3 separate regions of the Homo sapiens genome follow, and regions 1 and 3 are each linked to region 2. The links come from fine-mapping of genetic effects on gene expression. A gene starts in region 2. Each other region holds a variant in brackets. All regions are shown on one strand. Distances are between the middles of the regions.

Region 1 (6,497 bases), 30 kb before region 2:
AAGAATCCCAAGAAAAAGTATGAAGCATTGACTAGGAGGGAACAAATGCTTCTAGTAGTGTTCTTAGAATTCTTAGGATCTGAAATGTCAGAATGAGTCACACGCTGGTCATGCTCCATACAATGAAAGCAATCCTGCTTGATACTATTCACACGGTGCATGATTACTTCACGGGGGTGGAACGGAACAGTCTGTCGCCATTTGATAGTATGGTTCCAGAATGAAAACAAAACCACTGAATAAATCAGGGTAAGCAGTGTGTAACACTCCTTCCTGTCCATCGGTTTTCCACAGGGTGATTTGCACTGCCTGAGAGAAAGGAGGCAAGATACCTATCCCTTCTGATACACACAGGCACGACCACTACCGCCTCCAATTGCCAATTCAGAAGCTAACACACAAGCCCTCCAGTTCGTACCCTGAATATGGTAATTAAGACTAGGAATGGAGCAGTTCAGTCTAAAAAATATCACAGGTAACAGAATGCTTATATAAACTAGACTGCTTTTGACATCTGTAAGAAAATTGTATAGATGGCAGTTGGAAAAAAAAAAAAAAGATTGTTCCCATCTGTCAGCAAAACTGTTGAACTATACTCAGCTGAAGTCCTCATCGGGATTCTGTTGATCCAGCAGACGGACATGTGTGAATGGGAAGTGACCTCGTTTGCCATTACACTCCCCTTCCCACTGACCACTCACATTAATCTTCGTAACCTTTACCAGCTCACCGACCTGCAGGAGGAGAATAAGGAGAGCACTTTATTTCCAGGTAGGAATGCAAGCTGAACAACTCCATTCTCTGGTTAGGCACACCCTGCCCATGTGACTGCTCTAGGGATATTACAGAAATGGCCATTTGCTGCCTCCCCAGCCCCAGCCACCAGACTGATTACTTGTGGTTAATGCAGGCAGAAGGAAAAGTGTTTTTAGCAGTGTGGAAAAACAGAGAATACAGAAAGTAAAAGGGATTCCAGATAATGATACTTTTTGATTAAAAAAGGAAAGTGATAATTATTGGAAATCTCAGCTGTCTCTGCATGAGCAATCCCAACTTCAGTGAGTTAGCTACTATTCCCTTTCTTTGTACTCACTACCCTCAGCTTTCTGCCTGCTCCGCAGGCCCTGTCCGAGGAGAAGCAGCTTTCTCCGTTTTTTTTTTTTTTTTTTTTTGAGACGGAGTCTCTGTCACCCAGGCTGGATGACAGTGGCGTGATCTCAGCTCACTGCAAGCTCTGCCTCCCAGGTTCGAGCAATTTTCCTGCCACAGCCTCCCGAGTAGCTGGGACTACAGGCGCCTGCCACCGTGCCCAGCTAATTTTTGTATTTTTAGTAGAGATGGAGTTTCACCATCTTGGCCAGGCTGGTCTCGAACTCCTGACCTTGTGATCCACCTGCCTTGGCCTCCCAAAGTGCTTGGATTACAGGCGTGAGCCACTGTGCCTGGCCGCCTTCTCCCCGCTTTAGCATATGGCAGCAGCACAATCCCCCAGCCCACTCGCACAAGACCTGGCCTGTTACTGCTTGCACAGCAGAAAGCGATCATGGCAAGCATAGGTCACTTGGTCCTAGAGAATCAAGTGTTCCTATCACCTCCTGACCCAGGCAAGCCTTTTCCCATATGGGCAGGTAGAGGCCAAAACTCCAGGTCCAATTAGCTCCCAGAAAACCCCCACCTCATTCAGTAAGCTCTACTTCACAAGCCACTGCCTGCCCAGCCCCCAAATCCCACCATCGGACAGACCTTGCTGCTCCCTCAAAGCCGCTTGTTACCTGATCATTACCCAATGAGGGGTCAAAAAAACCAACCATGGCCGGGCGCAGTGGCTGACGCCTGCAATCCCAGCACTTGGTGAGCCTGACACAGGTGGATGGATTGCTTCAGCTCAGGAGTTTTTGAGACCAGCCTGAGCAACATGGTGAAACCGTCTCTACAAAAAATACAAAAATTAGCTGGGTGTGGTGGTGGCTGCTCATAGAACCAGCTACTCGGGAGGCTGAGGTGGGTGGACTGCTTGAGCCCAGGAGGCAGAGGTTGCAGTGAGCCGAGATCACATCACTGCACTCCAGCCTGGGCAACAGAGCCAGATCCTGCCTCTAAAAACAAAAAAAAACCTTATGTTTTGGCATTTATTTATAAAATGTCTCTTGTTGCAAAATGAAATATAAAG[G/T]TTTTTTTTGTTTGTTTTTTTAAGACAGAGTCTCGATCTGTTGCCCAGGCTGGAGTGCAGTGGCGCTATCTCAGCTCACTGCAAGCTCTGCCTCCCGGGTTCACGCCATTCTCCTGCCTCAGCCTCCCTAGTAGCTGGGACTACAGCCGCCCGCCACCACGCCCAGCTAATTTTTTGTATTTTGTTTAGTAGAGATGGGGTTTCACCATGTTAGCCAAGATGGTCTCGATCTCCTGACCTCGTGATCCGCCCGCCTCGGCCTCCCAAAGTGCTATGATTACAGGTGTGAGCCACCACGCCTGGCCATCTTTTTATCTTTTGTTTTTGAGACAGGGTCTCACTCTGTCACTCAGGCTGGAGAGCACTGACACCATCATGGCTCACTGCAGCCTGTAACTCTTGGGCTCATGGGATCCTCCAACCTTAGCCTCCCGAGTAGCTGAGACTACAGGTGCACGCCACCATGCCCAGCTAATTACAGGCATGAGCCTCCACACCATTTATGCATTTCATACAGTATCAGGAACTTTCAAATTATGCATCTGGGCTTGTACTGGGTTCCCTAAAAATGTACGCAGGCACATCTACTGGCCAAAGCCAACGTAAGTCCAGCCGCAGGGCCTCTTCCAGGCCCAGCCTGACCTCACTTACAGATGGAACAGCTTGCCTATTGGCCCCTCTGTTGTTTCCTGAAGAACTCTCTAAAAATTACAGAGGCCTGAAGTCACTGTATGGGTCATAGGATGCTGAGAAAAGGAGGGACAGAAAGAAGGGGATAGAGAGACACATAAGACACAGAGGTTGAGAAAAAAATAGCAGCAGGCTTGGTGCAGTGGCTCATGCCTGTAATCCCAGCACTTTGGGAAACTGAGGTGGGGGGATGGCTTGAGCCCATGATTTTGAGAGCAGCCCTGGCAAAAGAGTGAGATCTTGTCTCTACAAAAAAATTTAAAAAGCCAAGTGTGGCCAAGCGTGGCCAAGCGTGCTGGTGTGCGCCTGTGGTCCCAGTTACTTGGGAGGCTGAGGTAGGAGGTCACCTGAGCCTCCTGGGAGGTCAAGGCTGCCCCCTAGCCTGGGCAACAAGACCCTGTCTGCAAAAAAAGAGAAAACCAAGCAGCTAACCCAGCCTGTGTCGTGACAATGCCGGCTGAGCACACGTGTGGAGGAAGGAGAGGAAGGGATGATGGCCCAGCCTGTGTCGTGACGATGCCAGCTGAGCACAAGTGTGGAGGAAGGGGAGGAAGGGATGATGGCATGCCTATCCTTACACACAGGTAACAATCCTCACAGGTTGCTGTCACCAGGACTCTCACCACACCTGGCCTGCCAGCAATTTTAGAATTCAACGTTTCTCACATCTGGGCAGGGTGCTGTGGGGCTCACGTCTTTAATCCCAGCACTTTGGGAGGCGAGGTAGGAGGATCACTTGAGCTCAGGAGTTCAAGACCAGCCTGGGCACCATAGTGAAACCTCATTTCTACAAAAAATAAAAAAATTGGCTGGGCGTGGTGGCGCACGCCTATAATCTCAGCACTTTGGGAGGTCGAGGTGAGTGAATCACGACGTCAGGAGTTCAAGACCAGCCTGGCCAAATTGGTGAAACCCCGTCTCTACTAAAATACAAAAATTAGCCAGGTGTGGTGGCAGGCGCCTGTAATCCCAGCTACTTGCGAGGCTGAGGCAGTGAACTGCTTGAACCTGGGAAGAGGAGGTTGCAGTGAGCCGAGACTGTGCCACTGCACTCCAGCCTGGCCAACAGAGTTACACTGTCTCAAAAAATAAAATAAATAAATAAATTAGCCAGGCATAGTAGTGTGCGCCTGTGGTCCCAGCTACTCAAGAGGCTGACATGGGAGGATCACTTGAGCCCGGGAGGCAGAGATTGCAGTGAGCCAAGATAGTACCAGTGCACTCCAGCCTGGGCGACAGAGCAAAACTGTCTCCAAAAAAAAAAAAAAAAAAAAAAAAAAAAAAAAAAAAAAAAAAGATTCTGACATGCCCCAGCCAGGCTAGGCAACAATAGCAAGACTGTGTCTCTTGAAAAAAAAAAAAAAATTAGTAAGGTATCATCGTATGCACCTGTAGTTCCAGTTACTCAGGAGGCTGAGGCAGGAGGATCACTTGAGCCTGGGAGTTTGAGCTGTAGCAAGCCAAGTGCACCACTGCACCCCACCCTGGTGGAGAGACCAAGATTCTGTCTCCAAAAAAAAAAAAAAAAGAATCTTGGCCGGGCGCGGTGGCTCACGCCTGTAATCCCAGCACTTTGGGAGGCTGAGGGCGGCAGATCATGAGGTCAGGAGATCCAGACCATCCTGGCTAACACGGTGAAACCCCGTCTCTACTAAAAATACAAAAAATTAGCCAGGCGTGCTGGCGGGCGCCTGTAGTCCCACCTACTCGGGAGGCTGAGGCAGGAGAATGGTGTGAACCCAGGAGGCGGAGCTTGCAGTGAGCCGAGATCACGCCACTGCACTCCAGCCTGGGTAACAGAGCGAGACTCAGTCTCAAATAAATAAATAAATACCTCAATGTTATATTGTCTTTATTCTTTTTGTTTGTTTGAGAGAGAGTCTCACTCTGTCACCCAGGCTGGAGTGCAGTGACGCTATCTTGGCTCACTGCAACCTCCACCTGCCAGGTTCAAACAATTCTCCTGCCTCAGGCTCTCAAGTAGCTGGGACGACAAGCACAAGCCACCATGCCCAGCCAGTACTTTTTTCGTATTTTTAGTAGAGACGGGGTCTCACCATGCTGGGCAGGCTTGTCTCGAACTCCTGACCTCATGACCCGCCCACCTCGGCTTCCCAAAGTGCTGGAATTACAGGCATCAGCCACCGCGCCCAGCCTATATTGTCTTTATTCTTAAGCATTCATACTGCAGTCTCAAATCACATCCCACAAAGCTCTAAGAGGTGAAGGGTAGGTTGAAAAGTGGACCAGCCCCACCCCTTGCTGTTAACACAGAACCATACCAATTTCTCAAAATGTGGGGCAAAACCTGCTAATGTGCCTCCAGATCTTTTCTTTCAGACTTTTTTTTTTTTTTTTTTAATGGAGTTTTTGCTCTTGTCACCCAGGCTGGAGTGCAGTGGTACGATGCTGGCTCACTGCAACCTCCGCCTCCAGGATTCAAATGATTCTCCTGCCTCAGCCTCCAGAGTAGCTGGGACTACAGGCGCCCGCCACCACGCCCAGCTGATTTTTGTATTTTTAGTAGAGATGGGGTTTCACCATGGTGGGCAGGATGGTCTCGATCTCCTGACTTCATGATCTGCCTACCTCGGCCTCCCAATGTGCTGGGATTACAGGTGTGAGCCACCGTGCCAGCCCTTCTTTCAGACTTCTAAGGGATAAATGAGTAGGGATTTCTATGAGGCAAGATGTTATTGGGGAAAGGAACTATGTGTAAATTAGACCTTTGGACCATATCAGATCTTTTTTTTTTTTTTTTTTTTGAGACAGCGTCTCACTCTGTTGCCCTGGCTAGAGTACAGTGGCATGATCTCAGCTCACTGCAACCTCTGCCTCCCAGGTTCAAGTGATTCTCCTGCCTCAGCCTCCTGAGTAGCTGGGACTACAGGCATGTGCCACCACGCCCTGCTAATTTTTGTATTTATAGTAGAGATGGGGTTTCACCATATTGGCCAGGCTGGTCTTGAACTCCTGACCTCGTGATCTGCTCACCTCAGCCTCCCAAAGTGCTGGGATTACAGGCGTGAGCCACCACGCCCGGCTCAGAACTATCTTTAATGTACAGATTCTCTCTCTTTTTTTTTTAGATGGAGCCTCACTCTTGTCACCCAGGCTGGAGTCCAGTGGCGCAATCTCAGCTCACTGCAACCTCCGCCTCCTGGGTTCAAGCGATTCTCCTGCCTCAGCCTCCTGAGTAGCTGGGATTACTGGCGCACGCCACCACGTCCGGCTAATTTTTTCGCATTTTTAGTAGAGATGGGGTTTCACCATGTTGGCCAGGCTGGTCTCCAACTCCTGACCTCAGGTGATCCGCCCACCTTGGCCTCCCAAAGTGCTGGGATTACAGGTGTGAGCCACCGTGCCCAGCCAGATTCTCTTGGATCTACCCTGCAGAGGAAAACCATGCCAAAATCTAAAACTTTTTTTTTTACACCGGGTACGCTGGCCTGCACCTGTAGTCCCAGCTACTTGGGAGACTGAGGGGAGAGGAACCCTTGAGTCCAGGGTTTTTTTTTCTTTTTGAGACACTGTATTGATCTCTCACCCAGGCTGGAGTGCAGTGGCACAATCTTGTCTCATTGCAAACTCCGCCTCCTGGAGTCTTGTGCCTTAGGCTCCCAAGGACCTGGGATTA
Region 2 (5,000 bases):
AGATCTAGGATAATTTGTGAGCTTATAGACCCCATACTCATTTTTAAAAAATGGTTGTGTTAGACTGGGTGTGGTGGCTCACGCCTGTAATCCCAACACTTTGGGAGTCTGAGGTGGGCAGATCACCTGAGGTCAGGAGTTCGAGACCAGCCTGGTCAACTTGGCGAAACCCCAACCCTACTAAAAATACAAAAACTAGCCAGGCGTAGTGGAGTGTGCCTGTAATCCCAGCTACTAGGGAGGCTGAGACAGGAGAATCCTTTGAACCCGGGGAGGTAGAGATTGCAGTGAGCTGAGATTGCACCATCGCACTCCAGCCTGGGCAACAAAAGCGAAACTCCGCCTCAAACAAACAAAGCTGGGTGCGGTGGCCCACGCCTGTAATCCCAGCATTTTGGGAGGCAAAGGCGAGTGGATCACCTGAGATCAGGAGTTCAAGACCAATCTGGCCAACCTGGTAAAACCCCATCTCTACTAAAAATACAAAAAATTAGCTGGGCGTGGTGGTGATGCACACCAGCAATCCCAGCTACTCAGGAGGCTGAGGCAGAATCACTTGAACCCAAAAGGCAAAGGTTGCAGTGAGCCAAGATCGCGCCACTGCACTCCAGCCTGGGCGACAGAGAGACTCCGTCTCAAAATAAATAAATAAGTAAGAAATAAATAAGAAAAATTTTAAAAAAATTAGTATGTGTTGGCCAGGCGCGGTGGCTCTTGCCTGTAATCCCAGCACTTTGGGAGGCCGAGGCTGGTGGATCACCTGAGGTCAGGAGTTCGAGACCAGCCTGGCCAACCTGGTGAAACTTCGTCTCTACGAAAAATACAACATTAGCTGGTTATGGTGGCGGGTGCCTGTAATCCCAGCTACTTGGGAGACTGAGACAGGAGAATCGCCGTGAGCCGAGATTGCGCCACTGTGCTCCAGCGTGGGTGACAGAGCAAGACTCCGTCTTAGAAAAGAGTAAAATAAAAATTGGTGTGTGTTAACAAAGAGACTGCCTATCCAATTCTCTATTTCTGGCCGGAGCGAGTAAATCTAAATTAGAACTATTCTACAAGGGCAAGTCTACAAAGGACGGCTCAAGAGCTTCCTGATTCATATGAGACTAGTCTGAACCCATTCTCAGCTGGCCAAGAAGAAACTGCTTCGACTTGGCAACAGCGTGAAGGCACGAGGACTCCTGATGCTGTTACACAGGTACACATACAATGAGAACCCCAGAATTACTTTGTACCTCACAAATCTCCAGTACTAAGGGCATCTATCTATTCCCTTAAAACAGTCCCAAATCAACTCCAACGGCATCGGTAAGACAGTCAATCTCAGGGATCCCTCCCTGGCAAGGAAAACCCAGCGCAGGTAATTTATGTTCTTGGCGTAGAGTCTGTTCCCAATATCCAGGAAGACTCAGCCCGCAGCCCCATCTTACTGAGCAAGGTGACGCCCTGAAGTACACACCGACAATGTTTAAGTCCAAGGAAAATGAAGTTCCAGTCACTTACAGGGAAGGGTCTGTTTCCATTGCCTCACTTCTGGTTTATTTTGTGGAATAAAATGTCTTTCCTCCACTAAACACTTTGAAAACCAGAACTCTCTAACGGCGGACAGTCTTCTGGACGCTTAGATCTCTTGCACATAGCCAGGCATCGCCTTAAACTGGGTTGGGCTGGTCACTGAAGGCTTTCTGCTACCACTATTTCTTCTAGCACTTAGTTCACCACCTTCGTCCTCCACGGGGGAAGAGAACGGTACAAAGATTTTGGAAAAATGCCCAAGAAAGGAAAAAATTGACCGGTTTCCTGAGGGTGTCTCCATCCCTCCCGGCCAGTATGTGGTGACTTCCTACCAAAGGCCACCAGGGGAGCACGGCCAAACCCGGCTCTCCAACACGGCAGGAAACGTTTCCAGCCTAAAAGCCACTTGTAGGATTATCGGATTCATTCTGGGCGCCGCTGCCAAGTGATGCCCCCGCAGTGCCAACATCTCCCTCAGCTCTTTGTCCCCACGTTGCCTTGCCCTGCCCTACCCTTGCGCCTGGCCCGGGAGCCAGCCCCACCCTGGGGCCGAAGCAGTTCCCCTTCCCCGCGGCTGCCCTCCCCAGGCACACCCCGGGGCCTCGGTCCGCGGCTCCTCCTCCCCCACACTCCTGCTCCCCGGGTGAGAGCGAGCCCGAGCAGCCGGCGGGCCCCTGCCACGGTCACCCAGCCCTCTGCCCACGACCCCCGAGGGTCCGCTCTCGAGGACCAGCCAGCCAGGCTGGGAGTTCCGCGGCCCTCACCCCGCCCAGGGCCCGCCGTCCCGTCAGTCCCTCACCGGGCGGAGGCTGGGCGGGCGACGGTGGCACCGGCGGGCGCGGGCCGCTGCTGTTGATGATGTAGTGGGAGACGCGCGAGTTCTCTGAGACGCTGAGCACATAGTCCCCGGGGCTGGTGCTCGAGTCCCGCACCAGGAACACCCCGTGCCGCTGGCCCTGCAGCAGCGCCACCGCCTCCTGCCGACTCAACCTCCCCCAGTACCAGCTACTCCGCTCCTCCGAGTCGAAGTTGCCCGCCATGGCTGCCTCCGCGCCTAAACGCTGGGGTGCCGCCGCCGCGCGCGCCCCTCCGGCCCCCGGCGCCCGCCGCCCAGCGGACCGGCTCCGGTTTCAGCTTCACAGCAGCGCCCGAAATGGCGGCGGCAGCCGCGGGCCTCCCCCTCCGGAAATGACGCGCTCCCTGCCCGAGGGAGGCTGCCGGGAAGGGGCCCGCGGCCCGCCATTGGGAGAAGGGCAAGGCGCCCTCGCGCGCGCACTGCGCATGCGGATTCATGGGCGGTGCCGCCCTTCCCGGGCCCGGGCTGCGGGGGATGGGAGGCGGGGTCTAGGGCCCGAGGGGCGGGGCCTCGCAGCCTCCCGCAGAGACGCGCGCCTGCGCTGCGGACAGAGCGGTGCTTCTCGTCTGGGCCCCGGTTCCTGGACGACCTGGGACTTCTAGGCAGCGACTCCCAGACAGAATTGGAGGAGAAAAGATGCGTGTGGCCCTGGGGCCTGAGTTCTCGGCCAGGCTTCCTGCGATATCAGTCTGTTTCTTTTTTCTTTTTCTTTTTGAGACGGAGTCTTGTTCTGTCGCCCACGCTGGAGTGCAATGGCGCGATCTCGGCTCACTGCTCCCGGGTTCAAGCGATTCTCCTGCGTCAGCCTCCCGAGTAGCTGAGACTACAGGCGTGAGCCACCGCGCCCGGCTGTTTTTTGTATTTTTAGTAGAGACGGGGGTTTCACCATGTCGGCCAGGATGGTCTCAATCTCCTGACCTCAGGTGATCCGCCCGCCTCGGCCTCCCAAAGTGCTGGGATTACAGGCGAGAAACATCGCGCCCGGCCACGTCGGTCCGTTTCTGCTCGTTCCTCTAGCTTCTCCACAGACCAGCTGACGTTCTCATTTTCATTGATTCACCTAGGACATTGTTGTTGACACTCCACTTGCACTGCGGGTGCAAAGGTTATCATGGCTGGGCCCTGCACTCCTCGAACTCACAGACCAGTGAGAGGAACCAGGAAACTGGATGACAAAAGGATGACAAATGCTGACAAACGCTATCATGGGAAACGGACATGAACACAGAGCAGAGCCCCCACAGCCAGTCTATGGAGTAATCCAGGAGGGCTTCCCAGAGGAGGCAGCATGTGTTGACTGCTGAATGACAAATGGGGAAGGACATTCTTTCTTTTTTTTTTTTTTTTTTTTTTGAGATGGAGTCTCGCTCTGTCGCCCAGGCTGGAGTGCCTGGGCGTGATCTCGGCTCACTGCAAGCTCCGCCTCCCGGGTTCACGCCATTCTCCTGCCTCAGCCTCCCGAGTTGCTGGGACTGCAGGCACCCGCCACCACGCCCGGCTAACTTTTTGTATTTTTAGTAGAGATGGGGTTTCACCGTGTTAGCCAGGCTGGTCTCGATCTCCTGACCTTGAGATCCGCCCACCTCGGCCTCCCAAAGTGCTGGGATTACAGGCGTGAGCCACCGCACTCGGCGGGGAAGGACATTCAAAGCAAAGGGAGCAGAGTGTACCAAGCCACGTGAAGTACAGAGTTCTCTTCTCTTTTGAGGCTTTGGGGTCACCTGCCCAGATAATTCTAAACACTAAATTGTAGCCAGGGGCATCTCCTACTCTCACTGCCCTCATGATTGCCTCTGGACTGTGTTCCTACGAGTGTCGTGCTCGCTGGTGCTCTTTCGTCTGGCTGCCCCTAATCGCACTGCAAACAACTCCCACTGAGTTTTCTAAAATACAGATCTGGCCGGGCGCCGTGGCTCATGCCTGTAATCCCAACACTTTGGGAGGCTGTGGCTGGCAGATCACCTGAGGTCAGAAGTTCGAGACCGGGCTGACCAATATGGTGAAGCCCGGTCTCTACTAAAAATACAAAAATTAGCCAGGTGTGTTAGCGGGCGCCTGTAATCCCAGCTACTCAGGAGGATGAGGCAGGAGAATCGCTTGAACCCAGGAGGCGGAGGTTGCAGTGAGCCGAAATCATGCCACTGCACTCCAGCCTGGGTGACAGAGGGAGATCCTGTCTCAAAAATATATATATATGTATACAAATCTGAATGTGTTGCTACCTTGTGTAAAACTTTTAACAGTCTTCAGGTGTTCAAACTCCCAGTTTAGCTCAGAGCATAAAATTGGGCCACAGTCTCTCTCTCTCTTTTTTTTTTTTTTAGATGGATTCCTGCTCTGTTGCCCAGGCTGGAGTGCAGTGGCGTGATCTCGGCTCACTGCAATCTCCGCCTCCCGGATTCAAGCGATTATCCCTGCCTCAGCCTCCCGAGTAGCTGGGACTACAGGCACCCGCCACCACGCCCGGCTAATGTTTGTATTTTCAGTAGAGACGGGGTTTCACCATATTGGCCAGGCTCATTTTTTTTTAATTAAAAATTTTTTCTGGCCAGGCATAGTGGCTCATGCTTGTAATCCCAGCACTTTGGGAGGCCAGGAGGTCAGGAGTTCGAGACCAGCCTGGCCAACA
Region 3 (7,039 bases), 21 kb before region 2:
TTTTTGAGGCAGAGTCTCACTCTGTCGCCTAGCCTGGACTGCAGTAGCGCAATCATAGCTCACTCCAGCCTTGACCTCCCAGGCTGAAGCCATCCTCCCATCTCAGTCACTAGAGTATCTGGGACTACAGGCATGTGCACCACACTTGGCTAATTCTTGTAATGATGGGTTTCACCATGTTGACCAGACTAGGGTGTACTACTTCAAATACAAAGGTGAAACCGAGTGCTTGCCCCAGAACTGTTACAATCTGACAATACAAAGGAATGTACTAATCAGTGAATGTAGTAATAACAGTAGTTCTAACACTACTGATTTCAAAATTCAAGTTATAAATAGGAAAGAAAAATCCTAATATGAATTACCAATGAACAACAAAGACTTCATACAGGACTTGAAGTACTACAAGGTAGTTAACCTTTCTTTCCAAGAGGGAGACCTCACTACAGCAAAGAGACTGATGAGTCTCACCACAGAGGAACTGTTTTACTGTCCAGGCTGGTCCTCAGCCTCCTCATCCTGTAACACATTCTTAGGAGCTTCTTACAGCTCTGTGGGATGGGATTTGAGACTGCACTCTGAATGTTTAAGAATAAAGACAACATAGGCCAGGCGGGGTGGCTCATGCCTATAATCCCAGCACTTTGGGAGGCTGAGGCAGGCGGATCGCTTGAGGCCAGGAGTTTGAGACTAGCCTGGCCAATGTGGCGAAATCCCATCTCTACTAAAAATAAAAAAATTAGCCAGGCGTGGTGGTGGATGCCTGTAATCCCAGCTACCCGGGAGGTTGAGGCACGAGAATCACTTGAACCCAGGAGGCAGAGTGAGATCACGCCACTGTACTCCAGCCTGGGTGACAGAGTGAGACCTTGTCTTAAAAAAAAAAAAAAAAAAAGGCCAGGCGCGGTGGCTCACGCCTGTAATCCCAGCACTTTGGGAGGCGAAGGCAGGTGGATCACGAGGTCAGGAGGTCGAGACCATCCTGGCTAACACGGTGAAACCTCATCTCTACTAAAAATATAAAAAATTAGCCAGGCGTGGTGGCGGGCGCCTGTAGTCCCAGCTACTTGGGGGGCTGAGGCAGGAGAATGGCATGAGCCCAGGAGGCGGAGCTTGCAGTGCGCCGAGATCACGCCACTGCACTCCAGCCTGGGCAACAAAGCGAGACTCCGTCTCAAAAAAAAAAAAAAAAGAAAAGAAGAACAAAGACAATATAAGATTGAGGTATTTAAACAGAGTTTGCTATCAAGTAGAATGGTGGACTTAAGACTATATCCTAAAGAACCACAATCCACAAAACACCTAGAAAAGTTGACTAAAATATAACAAGCATCCTTTCATCTTCACTTTTTTAGGAAGCAAGTCCCGGCTGTATCATGGAGTCATTCATAAAGAAGACTGAATGTGGTTACTACAGTTTCTTTGCTCCCAAGGAACGTAACAAACACTGGCTATTCCCTAGCTCTGTGTCGTTTTCAAGGCTAATCGATCCTGGTGCAATCAGATCTAGAATTGGTACAGGAACAAAAGATTACCCAGCTGATCAATGCGTTCCAGAGATAATGAGAACAAAATCAGAACCCAAATGGTATCAATGTTTGGAATTCACTACACAGGGGACATCACAGAACTGGTTTTCTTTGCTGGCGCAAACCCAGGTGACTGCTTTTCTAGGTCCCTACTACCAACCAGCAGCACATCACTGACTGCTAACATGCCTTGATCCAGACTTGCTTTCAGTGAGCTCAGGGCAGGAAGCACACACAAATTCATACACACAAAACCAGGGAAGAGCAAGTACAGAGAGGCAGCACAGGAGCCTTCTCTTCCAACCTCCTAGGCTCAAGCAGTTTTCCTACCTCAGCCTCCCAAGCAGCTGAGACCACAGGTGCACACCACCACGCCTGGCTTTTTTTTTTTTTTTTTTTTTTTTTTGAGATGGAGTTTCACTCTTGTTGCCCAGGCTGAAGTGCTATGGCACGATCTCAGCTCACTGAAATCTCTGCCTCCCGGGTTCAAGTGATTCTCCTGTCTTAGCCTCCCGAGTAGCTGGAATTACAGGCGCCCACCACCACGCCTGGCTAATTTTTGTATTTTTAGTACAGACAGGGTTTCATCATATCGGTCAGGCTGGTCTCAAACTCCTGATCTCAGGTGATCTGCCTGCCTCAGCCTTCCAAAGTGCTGAGATTACAGGCGTGAGCCACCGCACCCAGCATGTATGGTTTTTTTTTTTTTTTTTTTTTTAGATCACCTGGCTAATTTTTAAAAACATTTTTTGTAGAGACCGGATCTCACCATGTTGCCCAGGCTGGTTTCAAACACCTGGACTCAAGCGATCCTCCCACCTCAGCCTCCGAAAGTGCTGGGATTACAGGCGTAAGTCACAGCACCTGGCCAAACATCAGCCTGTTGTTTTTGCAGCTTTATTGGAACACAGCAAGCTCATCTGTTGTTTTATCTATGATTTCCTTCTTGCTACAATGGCAGAGTTGGGACACAGAATTTAAGGCCCTCAAAAACCTTTACAGAAAAGGTTTGCAGACCCCTGATCTAAGTAACAGGTAGTGTATCTAGGGCCCATCGACAGTCTTTCAAATTGATGGAAACAAATGAGGACAATTCAGCCTTAACAATTCACCTGCATCAGAGATGGACTGAAACTGGCATGGGTAGTATTGGTGGAAAGCTGCCAGTGTTTGAGATTTAACAGTCCACATGAACAGAAAAAACATCCCACAGAATCCTGGGAGATAGGCCTTACCCTGGTTCTGGTGTGAGTCACAAAGATCTCTAGCTCAACTGATAATGCCTGAAGCTAAGCTCCCCATACCCTTGATGAGCGGTGACCACACATAGTACATATGTTTTAGCTCAACATAAAGACATTTCTAGAAATTGGCCAGGCACGACAGCTCACACCTGTAATCCCAGCACTTTGGGAGGCTGAGGCGGGTGGATCACCTGAGGTCAGGAGTTTGAGACCAGCCTGGCCAACAAGGTGAAACCCTGTCTCTACTAAAAATACAAAAATTAGCCAGGCACAATGGGGTATGCCTGTAATCCCAACTACTCAGGAGACTGAGGCAGGGGAATCACTTGAACCTGGGAGGCGGAGGTTGCAGTGAGCCGAGATCGTGCCATTGCACCCCAGCCTGGGCGATGGAGTGAGATTTCGTCTCAAAAAGAACCAAAAAAAAAAAAAAAAATCCAAAAAAACCCAATACCCAAATCAAAAAGGAAAACTTACTAAAATCATAAAACTAGTTTTCTACTCAAATCTTTATTTAATGAGATTTGTGTTTCACAGCAGGTAGAGAAGCTCAACCATTTTTTTGAGCAGTAAAGCCTCTAATTAAGGCA[G/C]GCATGATTAAATCTCTGAGAAAGGAAATGCAAATAGAAGCAAAATTCACATGATAACTGGTTTCTCCTGGGTCAGCTGGCTTGTTCCATGGCTTTTTTTCTTTTTCTTTTTTTGAGACAGAGTCTCACCCTGTCGCCCAGGCTGGAGTGCAGTGTCATGATCTCAGCTCACTTCAGCCATGACCTTTCAGGCTCAGGTGATCCTCCCTCCTCAGCCTCCCAAGTAGCTGGGACCACAGGCACGTGCCACCATGCCCAGCTAATTTTTTGTAGAGATGGTGTTTTGCCATGTTGCCTAGGCCGGTCTCCAACTCCTGAGCTCAAGTGATCTGCCCACCTCGGCCTCCCAAGGTGCTGGGATTACAGGTATGAGCCACACGCCCAGCCTTTGTTCCATGTTTTCATACTTACTTCAACCCAGTGCTAATAAAGTCTGTAATAAATGTCAAGAGTTACATCTAGTGACTCAGTAAGGCCAGATAAAAATAAAAAAAAGCAGAGAGGAAAAAAAAAAAAGAAAATAAAAAGGAGTAAGATCCATCATACACACAGCACCATGCCAGATGTTACCGTCATCTGAACTCACAGGAAGACCTGAGGGTAGAAATCTATTTTCCTCCAAACAGGGAATGGGAACAAGAGGCAGTGATAACTCTGACAACATACATTCCATTTCTCATTCAAGCCAGGACTGCAGGTGCATGCCACCACGCCTGGTGATTTTTTTTTTTCACTTTTTGTTAAAAAAAGCTGAGGTCTATGTTTCCCAGACTGGTCTTGAACACCTGGTCTCAAGTGGTCTTCCTGCCTTAGCCTCCCAGAGCACTAGGATTACAAGTGTGAGCCACTGTGCCCAGTCTGTACTAGCTTTTACACTGAACCATCAATTCTTCTGAAAAGAAAGGAAGGGAGAGAGGGAGGAAGGAAGAAGAAAGGAAGGAGGTAGGAGAGCAAGGTGTGAGCGTGGAAGAGAGGAATAAAGGAATTAACACCATGTAATGGCTGGCCAGAAGGAAGTGGGCTGCCAAAGATATTTCATCAGTAAAGGCAAAAATTAATTCCTGAGGAAGAACTGGCTTTTTGAATGATTTAGAAAGACCCGTGCACCTGCCACTCCTCGGAATGAGGACTTCTGGGTGTGCATCTCTTCAAACCTCTACTAGGCCTATTTCCTCCCGGATTCTACTCAATGAACATTAGTGGTAAGGAACTTCAAGTCCCCTGAAGCAAAAACAAGTTTTTGCGGGAAAATTCCATTTAAGTGCTTTGATAGAGACCACTTATTACACTCAAATCCATCTGAACCCACCTTCTTTTAGACAACGACAAACAGAAAGCAAGAAACAGATGAGGATGTAGATGAGGAAAAACATTTGAGGTTAATTCCTGTGAATTCAGGTGGTGTTATTAAAGTAGTCCAAGTGTGTTTAGTAGATCAATTAAGAACATTCAGTTATACAGTTTTAAGCTTACTCATTCCCAAACAGGTTTTCTATGAAGAAGAGAAAACCCAACATTCAATGCCAACATCAGTGCTTAGCGGCTTGCCATCTACAACATCCCAATGCTGTAGTCAGCATTGCTACAAAGCTCTAAGAGGACCGAGAGGAGACCCTGCAGCAGATCTCTTCTTTCTACATTGTGCACGTTATGTACCTCCAAAGCCAAGGCTGTCTTGTCGTAGGCATTGGGGACTCGCTTCTGGATAACCCTGGCATATATGGGCCCATTCTGGAGGTTAGGGAGCGGAGTGTTGACGCTGGGTTGGGCATAGGGCCCAGGCTCCGGCCCACCCAGTGGCTGTGGGTGGGAACCCTCCTGGTTACCTCCAATCAGAGCCGATACTGAGGCGGAGGCAGGTCTATACTTCTCGACGTAAGGGACTGGAATCATCCCTCTCTTGCCTTCGCTGTCCTCCGCATTCCACCACTGCTCTTCAGGCTTGTCCCGGATTCTCAAGATGTCTCCTTTCTTAAAGGGAAGATCTTCCTCATCATTCCCATTAAAGTCAAAGAGGGCTCGCACATACTCCGCCTCCTCCTGCCTGAGAATCACTCCACTACCCTGCCTGGATCTGGAAACTGGTTCTATCAACGTTGTAGTGTCCAAATAGTGTATTTTGTAGAATTCCAGTAAAGCAGGCAATGAATCAAACTCTTGATCTCCTATTCGGAGTCTGGAGGGGCTCACCCCTGGAAAAAACAGAGCAGGCTGTTATTTAATGATGTACTACACTGGAAATGAAATGCAGATTTTATTTTTATTTTTTTTAGAGTTGGGATCTCACTATGTTACCCAGGCTGGTCTTGACCTCCGGGGCTCAAGTGATCCTCTCACCACAAACTCCTGAGTAGCTGGGACTACAGGAGCCCACCACTGTGCCTGGCCGAAATGGAGCTTTCATGCATGCCTCATACACATTTAGTCAAGATTTAATCAGCAAAAAAAACTCTAGAAAAAATAACCCCTTCTCTTCACAGCACACCAACATCACATTTGGAAGCTGAAACATCCCCTGGGAAGAAAGATGCCCATCACTACAGCCCCAGGGAAGGATGAGGAGGCCAGGAGACTAGGCTGATCAGGACGTGCTCTCATACTTGATCAACGACGGGGGCTTTCACTGCATTCTCCAAATATGTTCTGTCGCTACCCCATTTACAGAGCAGTGTAAGCCTCAAGGTTCTGTTGCATGTTTTTTTTTTTTTGAGACCAAATCTCACTGTGTCGCCCAGGCTGGAGTGTAGTGGCGTGATCTCTGCTCACTGCAACCTCTGCCTCCCGGGTTCAAGCGATTCTCCCGTCTCAGCCTCCTGAGTAGCTAGGATTACAGGCTCCCACCACCATGACAAGCTAATTTTTTTTTTTTTTTTTGTATTTTTAGTAGAGACGGGGTTTCACCATGTTGGCCAGGCTGGTCTCAAACTCCTGATCTCAGGTGATCCACCCACCTCAGCCTCCCAAAGTGCTGGGATTACAGGTGTGAGCTACTGCGCCTGGCCTGCATCTACTTTTCAACCTCAGGAAATGTAGCAAGCTCTTGTTTTTCATGGGTCCCTGCTGCTGTTCAGAAGGTGGAGAGAGCTTGTGTCTGCACTGAGCTCACACATTTTTTCTCTTCACATCTAGAATGTATAATTCCGAAGAAGAAAAACTATCTCTTGTTGTGGTTTTCGTTGTTTTTGGGACAGAGTCTCGCTGTGTCGCTCAAGCTGGAGTGCAGTGGCACAATCACAGCTTACTGCAGCCTTGACCTCCCAGGCTCAAGTAATCCTCCCACTTCAGCCTCCTGAGCAGCTGGGACTACAGGCACGCTCAACCATATCTGGGTAATTTTTAAATATTTTGTAGAGATGGGGTTTCACTATGTTGCCCAGGCTAGTCTCAAACACCTGGGCTCAAGCAATCCTTCGGCCTCAACCTTCCAAAGTGTTGGGATTACAGGGATGAGCCACAGTGCCTGGCCTCTGGTATCTTTTTAAATCTAAGATAGGTGATCTCAATTTTATCTTTGACAGCTAAAAGGTAAAAGAACCAAGAAGCTGAACTGAAAAACTAAGGGGCTAACTGCTTAAAAATCAATTCCCGAGATCGTAAATAAAACAGAAACTAGACTGTTCGCTATGAAGCAAACAGGTCATTAAAAAAAAAATGCTTGGGGAAATAAAGGGTTAAA

What was found.
Region 1: its variant is fine-mapped to the expression of CRK in whole blood (TOPMed, PIP above 0.99).
Region 3: its variant is fine-mapped to the expression of CRK in whole blood (INTERVAL, PIP 0.97).

Annotation. Positions count from the first base shown.
Region 1 is chr17:1,422,917-1,429,413 of GRCh38, forward strand. CRK (CRK proto-oncogene, adaptor protein) reads right to left here. Exons shown (of 3, transcript NM_016823.4): 3 at 1-734. The coding sequence ends at 597. CRK-AS1 (CRK antisense RNA 1) reads left to right here and starts at 1,670. Exons shown (of 1, transcript NR_198965.1): 1 at 1,670-1,749. The variant G/T (reference allele first, on the strand shown) is at 2,171.
Region 2 is chr17:1,453,563-1,458,562 of GRCh38, forward strand. CRK (CRK proto-oncogene, adaptor protein) reads right to left here and starts at 2,670. Exons shown (of 3, transcript NM_016823.4): 1 at 2,315-2,670. The coding sequence starts at 2,555. RefSeq lists enhancers at 203-704, 1,839-2,824 and silencers at 2,089-2,218, 2,329-2,388, 2,479-2,978.
Region 3 is chr17:1,431,601-1,438,639 of GRCh38, forward strand. It overlaps CRK (CRK proto-oncogene, adaptor protein), which reads right to left. Exons shown (of 3, transcript NM_016823.4): 2 at 5,020-5,555. Among named protein-coding and RNA genes, the nearest start is that of CRK-AS1, 11 kb to the left of the region's middle. RefSeq lists enhancers at 450-950, 951-1,451. The variant G/C (reference allele first, on the strand shown) is at 3,364.